2 separate regions of the Homo sapiens genome follow, and region 1 is linked to region 2. Evidence: fine-mapped expression QTL. A gene starts in region 2. The other region holds a variant in brackets. All regions are shown on one strand. Distances are between the middles of the regions.

Region 1 (5,486 bases), 40 kb before region 2:
AGAGCTCTCCCGGACCCCATACAGTTTATGCAGGAGCACCCCAAAACTGCTCCCCTCAGAAGCAGGAGGACGTCTCTCTCCCAGCAATGAGCTGCCACCTCCTCAGACTCCAACTCGGATTGTTCTCTCTGTGTCTCAGGAACCACCCTCCAAATTGCATACAATGGCCAGGCACGGTGGCTCATGCCTGTCATCCCAGCACTTTGGGAGGCTGAGGCAGGTGGATAACCTGAGCTCAATAGTTCAAGACCAGCCTGGCCAACATAGTGAAACCCCGTCTCTACTAAAAATACAAAAATTAGGGCCAGGCACGGTGGCTCACACCTGTAATCCCAGCGCTTTGGGAGGCCAAGGTGGGCGGATCACCTGAGGTTGGGAGTTCGAGACCAACCTGGCCAACATGGAGAACCCCTGTCTCTGCTAAAAAATACAAAATTAGCTGGGCGTGGTGGCACATGCCTGTAATCCCAGCTACTCGGGAGGCTGGGGCAAGAATCACTTGAACCCGGGAGGCAGAGGTTGCGGTGAGCTGAGATCATGCCATTGCACTCCAGCCTGGGCGACACAGCGAGACTCCATCTCAAAAAAAAAAAAAAATTCTATACAGTGCATCTCACAAAGTGAGGTCCCTTTGAAGTAGGGCAACTCATTTGAGGCTAAAGCGCTGAGTCCTGGGGCAATCTCTGGCTCCGACAGGCTCAGGGTACCAGCATGGTCCCTGGAGACCAAGAGGTGGGTGGGGAGGTGGGGGCAGAGTCTGGGAGTGAAATTGAAGGAGCAGTTACTCTTCTTGCCACGAGAGGGAGCACCAAGGGGATGTCTTGATCATATCAGTCAAGCGTGGAGTCAACACACAACATGTTCCCAATTTTATCAAGTCTCTCAAATATTCCCACTCAGAGGGTCCCTCATAGAATAACATTCTAACTCCAAGTTTTTTCTGAGAACAAGTTATTTCTGGCCAGGCGAAGTGGCTCATGTTTGTAATCCCAACACTTTGGGAGGCCAAGGCGGGCAGATCTCCTGAGGTCAGGAGTTCAAGACCAGCCTGGCCAACAGGGTGAAACCCCGTCTCTAAAATACAAAATTGTAAAATACAATTTTGTATTTAAAATACAATACTCTATCGTATTTAAAATACTCCAGAATACAAAATTGTAAAAATACAAAATTAGCTGGGAGTGGTGGTATACACCTGTAATCCCAGCTACTGGGGAGGCTGAGGCAGGAAAATCACTTGAACCCAGGAGGTGGAGGTTGCAGTGAGCCAAGATCGTGCCATTGCACTCTAGCCTGGGCAACAAGAGCAAAACTCCGTCTCAAAAAAAAAAAAAGTTATTTCTTCCAAGCAGATATGCAACAATATAGTGACTTAGCAAGATAATATTATGGAATAGGGAACAGGGTTGCCAGGTTTAGCAAAAAATTTTATTTTACTCCTTTTTTATTTTACAAAAAAATTTTGTACAAACGGGGTCTATGTTACGTTGCCCAGGCTGGTCTCGAACTCCTAGACTCAAGTAATCCTCACACCTCAGCCTCCTGAAGTGCTGGGATTATAGGCATGAGCCACCACTCCCAACCAGATTTAGCAAATAAAATAAGTGCCCGATTAAATCTGAATTTCAGGTAAACACAAATAATTTTTTTTTAAGACAGGGTCTTGCTCTGTCACCCAGGCTGGAATGCAATGGTGCAATCATAGCTCACTGCAGTTTCGAACTCCTGGTCTCAAGTGATCCTCCTGCCTCAGCCTCCCAGACCACTGGGATTACAGACGTGAGCCCTGTGCCTATTGGAAACACAAATAATTTTTTTTTGAGATAGGGTCTGGTTCTGTTGCCCAGGCAGGAGTGCAGTGGCATGGCTCACTGCAACCTCTGCCTCCTGGGCTCAAGCCATCCTCCCACCTCAGCCTCCCAAGTAGCTCCCAAGTGCACACCACCACATCCAGCTATTTTTTTTTTTTTTTGAGACGGAGTCTCGCTCTGTCACCCAGGCTGGAATGCAGGGGCGCTATCTCAGCTCACTGCAAGCTCTGCCTCCTGGGTTCGCGACATTCTCCTGCCTCAGCCTCCCGAGTAACTGGGACTACAGGTGCCCGCCACCATGCCCGGCTAATTTTTTTGTATTTTCTTTTTAGCAGAGACGGGGTTTCACTGTGTTAGCCAGGATGGTCTCAATCTCCTGACCTCGTGATCCGCCCGCCTCAGCCTCCCAAAGTGCTGGGACCACAGGCTTGAGCCACCACGCCTGGCCCACATCCAGCTAATTTTTTAAAAAACTCTTTGTAGAGATGGGGTCTCACTATATTGCCCAGGCTGATCTTAAACTCCTGAGCTCAAGCAGTCCACCTGCCTCAGCCTCCCAAAGTGCTGGGATTACAGGTGTGAGCCACTTCACTTGGCCCGACAAATAATTTTCAATATAACTCAAGTATTTCCTGAGACCTAGTTATAGTAAAAAAAAAAAAAA[T/AT]CGTTTATCTCAAATTCAGACTGAGCTAAGTATTCTGTATTTTAGCAGGCACTCCAAAAGGAGTGACACGTGCTTTAAGAGTTTTATACACCAGCTGGGTGTGGTGGCTCACGCCTATAATCCCAGCACTTTGGGAGGCTGAGGCGGACAGATCACCTGAGGTCAGGAGTTGGAGACCAGCCTGCCCAACATGGCGAAACCCCATCGCTATTAAAAATACAAAAAAATTAGCCGGGCATGGTGGTGGACACCTGTAATCCTAGCTACTCAGGAGGCTGAGGCAGGAGAATCACTTGAACCCGGGAGGCAGAGGTTGCAGTAAGCTGAGATCGCAACACTGCACTCCAGCCTGGGGGACAAAAGCAAAACTCCGTCTCAAAAAAAAAAAGAGTTTTACAAACCAAATGTTTGCAGTGGCTGCGCTCACGCCTGTAATCCCAACACTTTAAGAGACTGAGACGGGTGGATCACTTGAGGTCAGGAGTTCAAGATTAGCCTGGCCAACATGATGAAACCCTGTCTCTACTAAAAATACAAAAATTCGCTGGGCATGATGGTGGGCACTTGTAATTCGAGCTACTTGGGAGGCTGAGGCAGGAGAATCACTTGAACCCAGGAGGCAAAGGCTGCAGTGAGTGGAGATTGCACCACTGCACCCCAGCCTGAGCAACAGAGTGAGACTCCGTCTCAAATAAAAAATGAAAATAAAATGCAGCTTTCTCTGTCATGGCACCCATTCTGGTGTGCATGAGGACAGACAGCCCAGATTATTTTTCGAGGAGACATGTGGCCCTGCCCACAGTATATTCCACAGAACAGCCCTGACCAGAAGTGGAGTGACTCCCAGCTTCTGGCTTCCTCTTTTCACGATGAGATGCGGCACTGCTGGGCTTCGCTGGTGTGGAGCGCGTGCGGCTGTGTGCTTGAGCTGTGAAACAGTCTTCTGCTCCCTCTGGTCAGCACCTTTGGAAAGTGTGGTGAGAGCAACAATACTATCAAGGATTATCTGAAGAATGCCTTTTTTTGTAGGTCAGTGATAACCAGACATTTTAGTGACAAAGCCAATTCAGAAAAAAAGTAACCTGTTACCAAAATCCTTTAAAAAACATGATCTCTTTTATCAGGAAACATAATATCAACATCTTTGGTTAAGCATGCTTTTCTTGTTTTTCCAAATGCTGAAGGGTTTCATTATTTTAGCTAAGCTTTCAGAAACAACATTACACACATGCCCTGGTGTTATCGGATGTAAAGCTGCACATTTTCCCAACGTTTTTGGTCCAGGAAAGCATTTCTGGAGCTAGTTCGTTTGGCTTTTTCTTAATTGACTCTGGAATCCATTTATTTGCAAAGTGTGTTTTGCCTCTTTTAATTTCTTTTTACTCATGTGGAATAACCATATAGTTTTTTTTTTCTTTCCTTCTTTCTTTCTTTTCTTTTCTTTTTTTTTTTTTTTTCTTTTTTGAGACAGAGTCTCGCTCTGTCACCCAGGCTGGAGTGTAGTGGTGCAATCATAGCTCGTTGCAGCCTCGACCTCCTGGGCTTAAGTGAACCTTCTACCTCAGCCCGAGTAGCTGGGACTACAGGTGCATGCCACCATGCCTGGCTAATTTTTATTTTATTTTATTTATTTTGGGGACGGAGTTTTGCTCTTGTTGTCCAGGCCGGAGTGTAATGGCACGATCTCAGCTCACTGCAACCTCTGCCTCCTGGATTCAAGTGATTCTCCTGTTTCAGCCTCCCAGGTAGCTGGGATTATAGTCATGCACCACCATGCCCAGCTAATTTTGTATTTTTTTTTTTTTTTTAGTAGAGACAGGGTTTCACTGTGTTGGTCAGGTTGGTCTTGAACTCCCAACCTCAGGGGATATACCCGCCTTGGCCCCACAAAGTGCTGGGATACAGGTGTAAACTTTTTTTTTTTTTTTTTTTTTTAGAGATGGGGTCTCATTATGCTGCCCAAGCTAGTCTCAAAACTCCTGGGCTCAAGAGATCCTCCCACCTCAGCATCTCTAGCTAAGTTCATAGAGAGTCCTGATCTTAAGGGTACGGCTCAGTGAAACTCTGCATGTGTATATTCCTGTGTATATACACACCTACATCAAGATCTAGAACTTTCTTGCACTCTAGCAAGTTTCTCTGTGCTCCTTCCCACATAATATAATACTTCCACCAGAAGCAACCACTATTCTGATTCCTTTTTTTTTTTTTTTTTTTTTTTGAGATGGAATCTTGCTCTGTCACCCAGGCTGGAGTGCAGTGGTGCTATCTCGGCTCACTGCAACCTCCGCTTCCCAGGTTCAAGCGATTCTTCTGCTTCAGCTTCCTGAGTAGCTGGGATTACAGGCATGTGCCACCACACCCGGCTAATTTTTGTGTTTTAGTAGAGACAGGGTTTCACTGTGTTGGCTAGGCTGGTCTTGAACTCCTGACCTCAAGTGATCCGCCTGCCTCAGCCTCCCAAAGTGCTGGGATTACAGGTGTGAGCCACCGTGTCCGGCCACTATTCTGACTTCTACCACTGGGGATTAGTTATGCTTGTTCCTAAATTGCATATAATTGGAATCATGCAATATGACACATATTTGTTGAAAAAAAAATCTGTAAGATTCATCCATGTTGTTGCAGATATCAGTAATTCATTCTTTTTTATTGCTGCATAGTATTTCAGTGTATGACTATGCCACAATTTATCAATTTTCCTGGGGCCGGACATTTATGTTCTGGATCTTGGCTCTTGTATCTAGACCTTCTATGAGTGCCATGCTCTGCATATGCCTTATGGCACCCTCATTTCTCTTAGGTCTATACCTAGGATCTTGATTGTTGGGTCAAAATACAGGCATATGTTTAGCTTTCGTCTATTCTGCCAGTTATCTTTTCTTAATTTTTATTTTTAGGAATAGAGATGAAGTTTTCACTATGTTTTCCAGGCTGGTCTCAAGCTCCTGAGCTCAAGTGATGCTCTCGCCTCAGCCTCCCAAAGTGCTGGGATTACAAGGCATGAGCCA
Region 2 (5,212 bases):
GTTTCCAGAGTTCAGGGCCACACATCAGCTAACCTCACTGGTCCACCTCTGCCATTCTACTCAATCACTGCCACAACTGTGAGGTGGATCAGGTTGAGGCTGTTATTCTCATTTTACGAATGAGAAAATAACTGGCTGGGTGTGTGGCTCACACCTGTAATCCCAGTACTTCTGGAGGCCGAGATGGGCAGATCACTTGAGGCCAGGAGTTTGAGACCAGCCTGGTCAACATGGCAAAACCCCATCTGTACCAAAAAGACGAAAAAAAAAAAAGCCAGGCATGGTGGCACACACCTGTAATCCCAACTACTCGGGAGGCTGAGGCAGGAAAATTGCTTGAACCTGGGAGGCAAGGCTGAGGCAGGAGAATTGCTTGAACCCGGGAGGCAGAGGTTGCAGTGAGCCGAGATTGTACCACTGCACTGTGGCCTGGGTGACAAGAGCAAGACTCTGTCTCAAAAAAAAGAACCCCAAAAAACAGAACAAAACTGAGGCTTACCTAGGGTCACAGATTTGAAAAGTGGTAAGAGCTAATACTTAACTGAATTTAAGTCTGACTCTAAATTCAATGCTCATTTTACCACATACCCGCAGTTGTTCATTTGTTCAGGGATCATGAGTGCTGGCTCTGGATTAAGATAACCTACATTAATGTATAATTCCAGGGCTGGGCATCGTGGCTCACGCCTGTAATCCCAGCACTTTGGGAGGCCGAGGTGGGTGAATCACGAGGTTAAGAGGTCAAAACCATCCTGGCCAACATGGTGAAACTTCGTCTCTACTAAAAATACAAAAATTAGCTGGGTGTGGTGGCGCACAACTGTAGTCCCAGCTACTCAGGAGGTTGAGGCAGGAGAATCGCTTGAATCCGGGAGGCAGAGATCGCAGTGAGCCAAGATGGCGCCACTGCACTCCAGCCTGGCAACAGAGAGCGATTCCATCTCAAACAAACAAACAAAAAAAAATACACAAAATTCCAGCTCCCTACTTCCTAGCTATGTGTAACTGAGCAAGTTATTCCATCTTTCTGAGCCTCAGTCTCTTCATCTGTGAAAAGGGATAACAGCTGGGCACAGTGGCTCATGCCAGTAATCCCAACACTCTGAGAGGGTGAGGTGGGAGGATCACTTGAGCCTAGAAGGTCTAGGCTTCAGTGAGCTGTCATCGTGCCACGGCAATCCCACCTGGGTGACAGAGCGAGATCCTGTCTCAAAAAAAAAAAAAAAAAAAAAGACAAAAGGGATAATAGTACCAACCTTAGAAGGTGAATTAATGCCTCCAAAATTTTTAGCAGCGCACCTGACAATTAGCAGAGCATTCAATAAATGAGTAAGGCAACCACTACGTGTCTGGCCCTATGCTGTGTTGTTGCCGGGTACAGAGGACACAGTGATGAATCACAAGAAGTGCTGCCCTCCAGAAGTTCCCAGTATGATGGAGGAAGACAGAGAGAGAAAATTACAACATAATGTTACAAAAACTATGACTGAGGTAGGAAAAAAATGTTGCAGGAACATAGAGAAGGGAACCACTCACTTTGCCTGAAGGGGAATCAAGGATGACATCACAAAGGATATGAAGCTAAGAGGATGAGTAGGAGCTAGGCAGGCAAACAAGGAGAAAGGGAAGAAAAAGCATTCCAAGCAAAGGGCACAGGTGGTAAAGGGCGTGTGGTCTTCAGAGGGCACAGTGTGTTCTGGCCTGGCAATGCCCTTTCCTAGTGTTGGCTAGAAACTGGAGAGGTCACAAAAATGAATGCCACCCTAAGGAGTTTGGGGTTAATTTTGAAAATGAGAGAAGGCAGCAGAACTTTAGGAAAGGGAAGCCTGTTGTTTCTGGAAGGTCTTCTCTCTGCGGATGGCTGCCAGGGACAAATGGAAAAAGAAGACGCAGAGACAAGAGAGGGTGAGGAAGCAGCGTTAGCAAGAAAAAGGAATGAAGCCTAAGACTGGGCAAGGAAGTGGAATGGGAACAATCCTGGTGAAGGCCTGAGCGGTGGGTTTGTAGGCGTCGCTCGGCATAATTCAAGGTCAACAGCCTCCCACAACCCGGCTGGTTTCTCAGCGCCCGGAACGCGGCGTTCTTTCCTCAAGCCCCGCCCCTCCTCCTCTCCACTCCCAGCCCCCGGATCTTGGCCTCACTGACAGCCTGTCCTCAGGCCCCGCCCCACCCCCTGGCCCTGAGCTCCGCCCCGCCCCCAGCCCTGGGCCCCGCCCTCACGCCAGGTGCTATCCGGTCGCCGGCACAGGTACGTTTCTCCGATCTCCACCGTGACTTCCGGCTCGCCGCGCGCCGGGGTCGGCGGAGAGACGCGGCCCGGGGATGGGGCGGTCCCCTCAGCGGCCGCATTCTCCCCGGGCCCGGGCTCGCCCTCCCCCGCGACCCCTGAAGTCCCCGCCGCAACCGCCGCAGCAGCTCCCTGTGCCGCCATCGCGGGAAGGGAAGTGACGCCAGAATCGGACGCCACGCAGTTCTTTTGGCTCCGGGTCAGCAGTGCGTGGGGCGGGCTCCTCAAGGTTTGAGGGCGGGGTCTGTGATGTAGCAGGAGCCGATTGGCTTCTGTGGCCGTCCCCGCGGCCCCGCGAGTTGGATGTTGAGTGTGCGGCAGTCTTGGAGCTCCTGGTTTTCCGTGCGGACCTGTGGCTGCAGCCTATGGGTGAGGAGAGGAGACAGACTTACCTCATGCGATGACTCAACTCAACCTTTTTTTAATTTATTTATTTATTTATTTATTTATTTATTTTGAGACGGAATCATGCTCTGTCGCCCAGGCTGGAGTGCAGAGGCGCGATCTCGGCTCACTGCAACCTCCGCCTCCGGGTTCAAGCGATTCCTCTGCCTCAGCCTCCCGGGTAGCTGGGACTGCAGGCGCGCGCCACCACGCCCATCTAATTTTTGTATTTTTAGTAGAGACGGGGTTTCACCATGTTGTCCAGGATAGTCTTGATCTCTTGACCTCGTGATCTGCCAGCCTCAACCTCCCAAAGTGCTGGGATTATAGGCGTGAGCCACCGTGCCCGGCCAGCTGAACCTTTTTAAAGGCCCTGGTACCTGCGGAAGCCAAGATGTGCCAATTTTCAGCGGGCGCTGCCCCCACTTTAACAGGGCAGAGCCAGAGCGGCCGCCCTGGTGGCCTGGAGCCGCACACTCGCGCTGGCCTAATGTCGCTCCCCGCCCCCCCCCCTTTTTTTTTTTTGAGATGGAGTCTCGCTCTGTCGCCCAGGCTGGAGTGCAGTGACGCGATCTCGGCTCACTGCAGCCTCCGCCTCCCGGGTTCAAGCGATTCTCCTGCCTCAGCCTCCTGAATAGCTGGGATTACAATCGCGCGCCACCACGCCCGGCTATTTTTTGTATTTTTAGTAGAGAGAGGGCTTCACCCTGTTGGCCAGGCTGGTCTCGAACTCCTGACCTCAGGTGATCCGCCCGCCTCGGCCTCCCAAAGTGCTAGGGTTACAGGCGTGAGCCACCGTGCCCAGCCAGTGCCCCATTTTTGAAGGTTGAAGAGACTACTTCCCCTATTTGGGATACAGTTGGTGCGGGGAAAGCAGAACGGGTGTGTCCAGGGACAGGCCATAATTCACCCTCACAGGATAAAGTCTAAAGAAAGGACGAGTTGGGCGGGGCGTGGTGGCTCACGCCTGTAATCTCAGCACTTTGAGAGGCCGAGGCGGGCGGAGATCGAGACCATCCTGGCTAACACCGTGAAACTCCGTCTCTACTAAAAATACAAAATTTAGCCGGGCGTGGTGGCACGCACCTGTAGTCCCAGCTACTCGGGAGGCTGAGGCAGGAGAATCGCTTGAACCCGGGAGGCGGAGGTTGCAGTGAGCCGAGATCCCGCCATTGCACTCCAGCCTGGGGACCAAGAGCCAGACTCCATCTCAAAAAAAATAAAAAGGCCGGGTGCGGTGGTTCACGCCTGTAATCCCAGCACTTTGGGAGGCCTAGGCGGGTGGATCACGAGGTCAGAAGATCGAGACTATTCTGGCTAACACGATGAAACTCCGTCTCTACTAAAAAAAAATACAAAACAATTAGCCGGGCGTGGTGGCGGGCCCCTGTAGTCCCAGCTACTCGGGAGGCTGAGGCAGGAGAATGGTGTGAACCCGGGAGGTGGAGCTTGCAGTGAGCTGAGATCACGCCACTGCACTGAGGGTTCTGTGAGAGTCAGTAAAGGTTAAAGCCATTTATATGTGTATGGTCCAACCATACACAATCGGCCCTCCATATCCGCATGTCCCACCTTTGGAGATTGAACGAAGAGCGGGTTGAAAATACAGTGTTGAGGTATGGTGGCTCACACCTGTAATCTCGCACTTCAGGAATCCAAGCAGGAGGATCGCTTCAGGCCAGGAGTTCAAGACCAGCCTGGGCAGCATAGAGACCTCCTTTCTACTAAAAATTTGGGGGAAAAAAAAAATTAGCTGGGCCTCGGGGCCCGCACCTGTAGTCCCACCTACTCAGGAGGCTGAGGCAGAGGGATCGCTTAAACCCAGGAGGTCGAGGCTGAGTGAGCTATAATCCCTCCACTGCACTCCAGCTTGGGTGACAGAGACCCTGTCTCAAAAAAAAAGGGGGGAAAGAAAAGGAGGCTGGGCGCAGTGGCTCACTCCTGTAATCCCACCACTTTGGGAGGCCGAGGCAGGCAGATCACCTGAGGTCGGGAGTTCGAGACCAGCCTGACCAACATGGAGAAACCCCATCTCTACTAAAAATACAAAATTAGCCAGGCGTGGTGGCCGCATGCCTGTAATCCCAGCTACTCGGGAGGCTGAGGCAGGAGAACCGCTTGAACCTGGGAGGCAGAGGTTGTGGTGAGCTGAGATTGTGCCATTGCACTCCAGCCTGGGCAACAAGAGTGAAACTCTGCCTCAAAAAAAAAAAAAAAAAGACTGGGCGCGGTGGCTCACACCTGTAATCCCAGCACTTTGGGAGGCCGAAGCAGGTGGATTACTTGAGGTCAGGAGTTCAAAACCAGCTTGGCCCACATTGTGAAACCCCGTCTCTACTGAAAATACAAAACAGTCAGGGGTGGTGGCGTGTGCCTGTAATCCCAGCTACTTGGGAGGCTGAGGCAGGAGAACTGCTTGAACCCAGGAGGTGGAGGTTGCAGTGAGCCGAGATCGCGCCACTGCACTCCAACCTGGCCGACACAACAAGACTCCATCTCAAAAAAGAAAAAGAAAAAAGAGGGAGGAAGGGAGGAAAAGAA

Evidence for each region. PIP is the estimated chance that this variant, and not a neighbour inherited with it, causes the effect.
Region 1: its variant is fine-mapped to the expression of KAT8 in fibroblasts (GENCORD, PIP 0.93).

Annotation. Positions count from the first base shown.
Region 1 is chr16:31,155,171-31,160,656 of GRCh38, reverse strand. No RefSeq gene overlaps it. Among named protein-coding and RNA genes, the nearest start is that of PRSS36, 7.8 kb to the right of the region's middle. The variant T/AT (reference allele first, on the strand shown) is at 2,476.
Region 2 is chr16:31,114,901-31,120,112 of GRCh38, reverse strand. KAT8 (lysine acetyltransferase 8) reads right to left here and starts at 2,449. Exons shown (of 11, transcript NM_032188.3): 1 at 2,221-2,449. The coding sequence starts at 2,431. It also overlaps a transcript of BCKDK not described here. RefSeq lists an enhancer at 1,866-1,985 and silencers at 2,156-2,505, 2,405-2,631.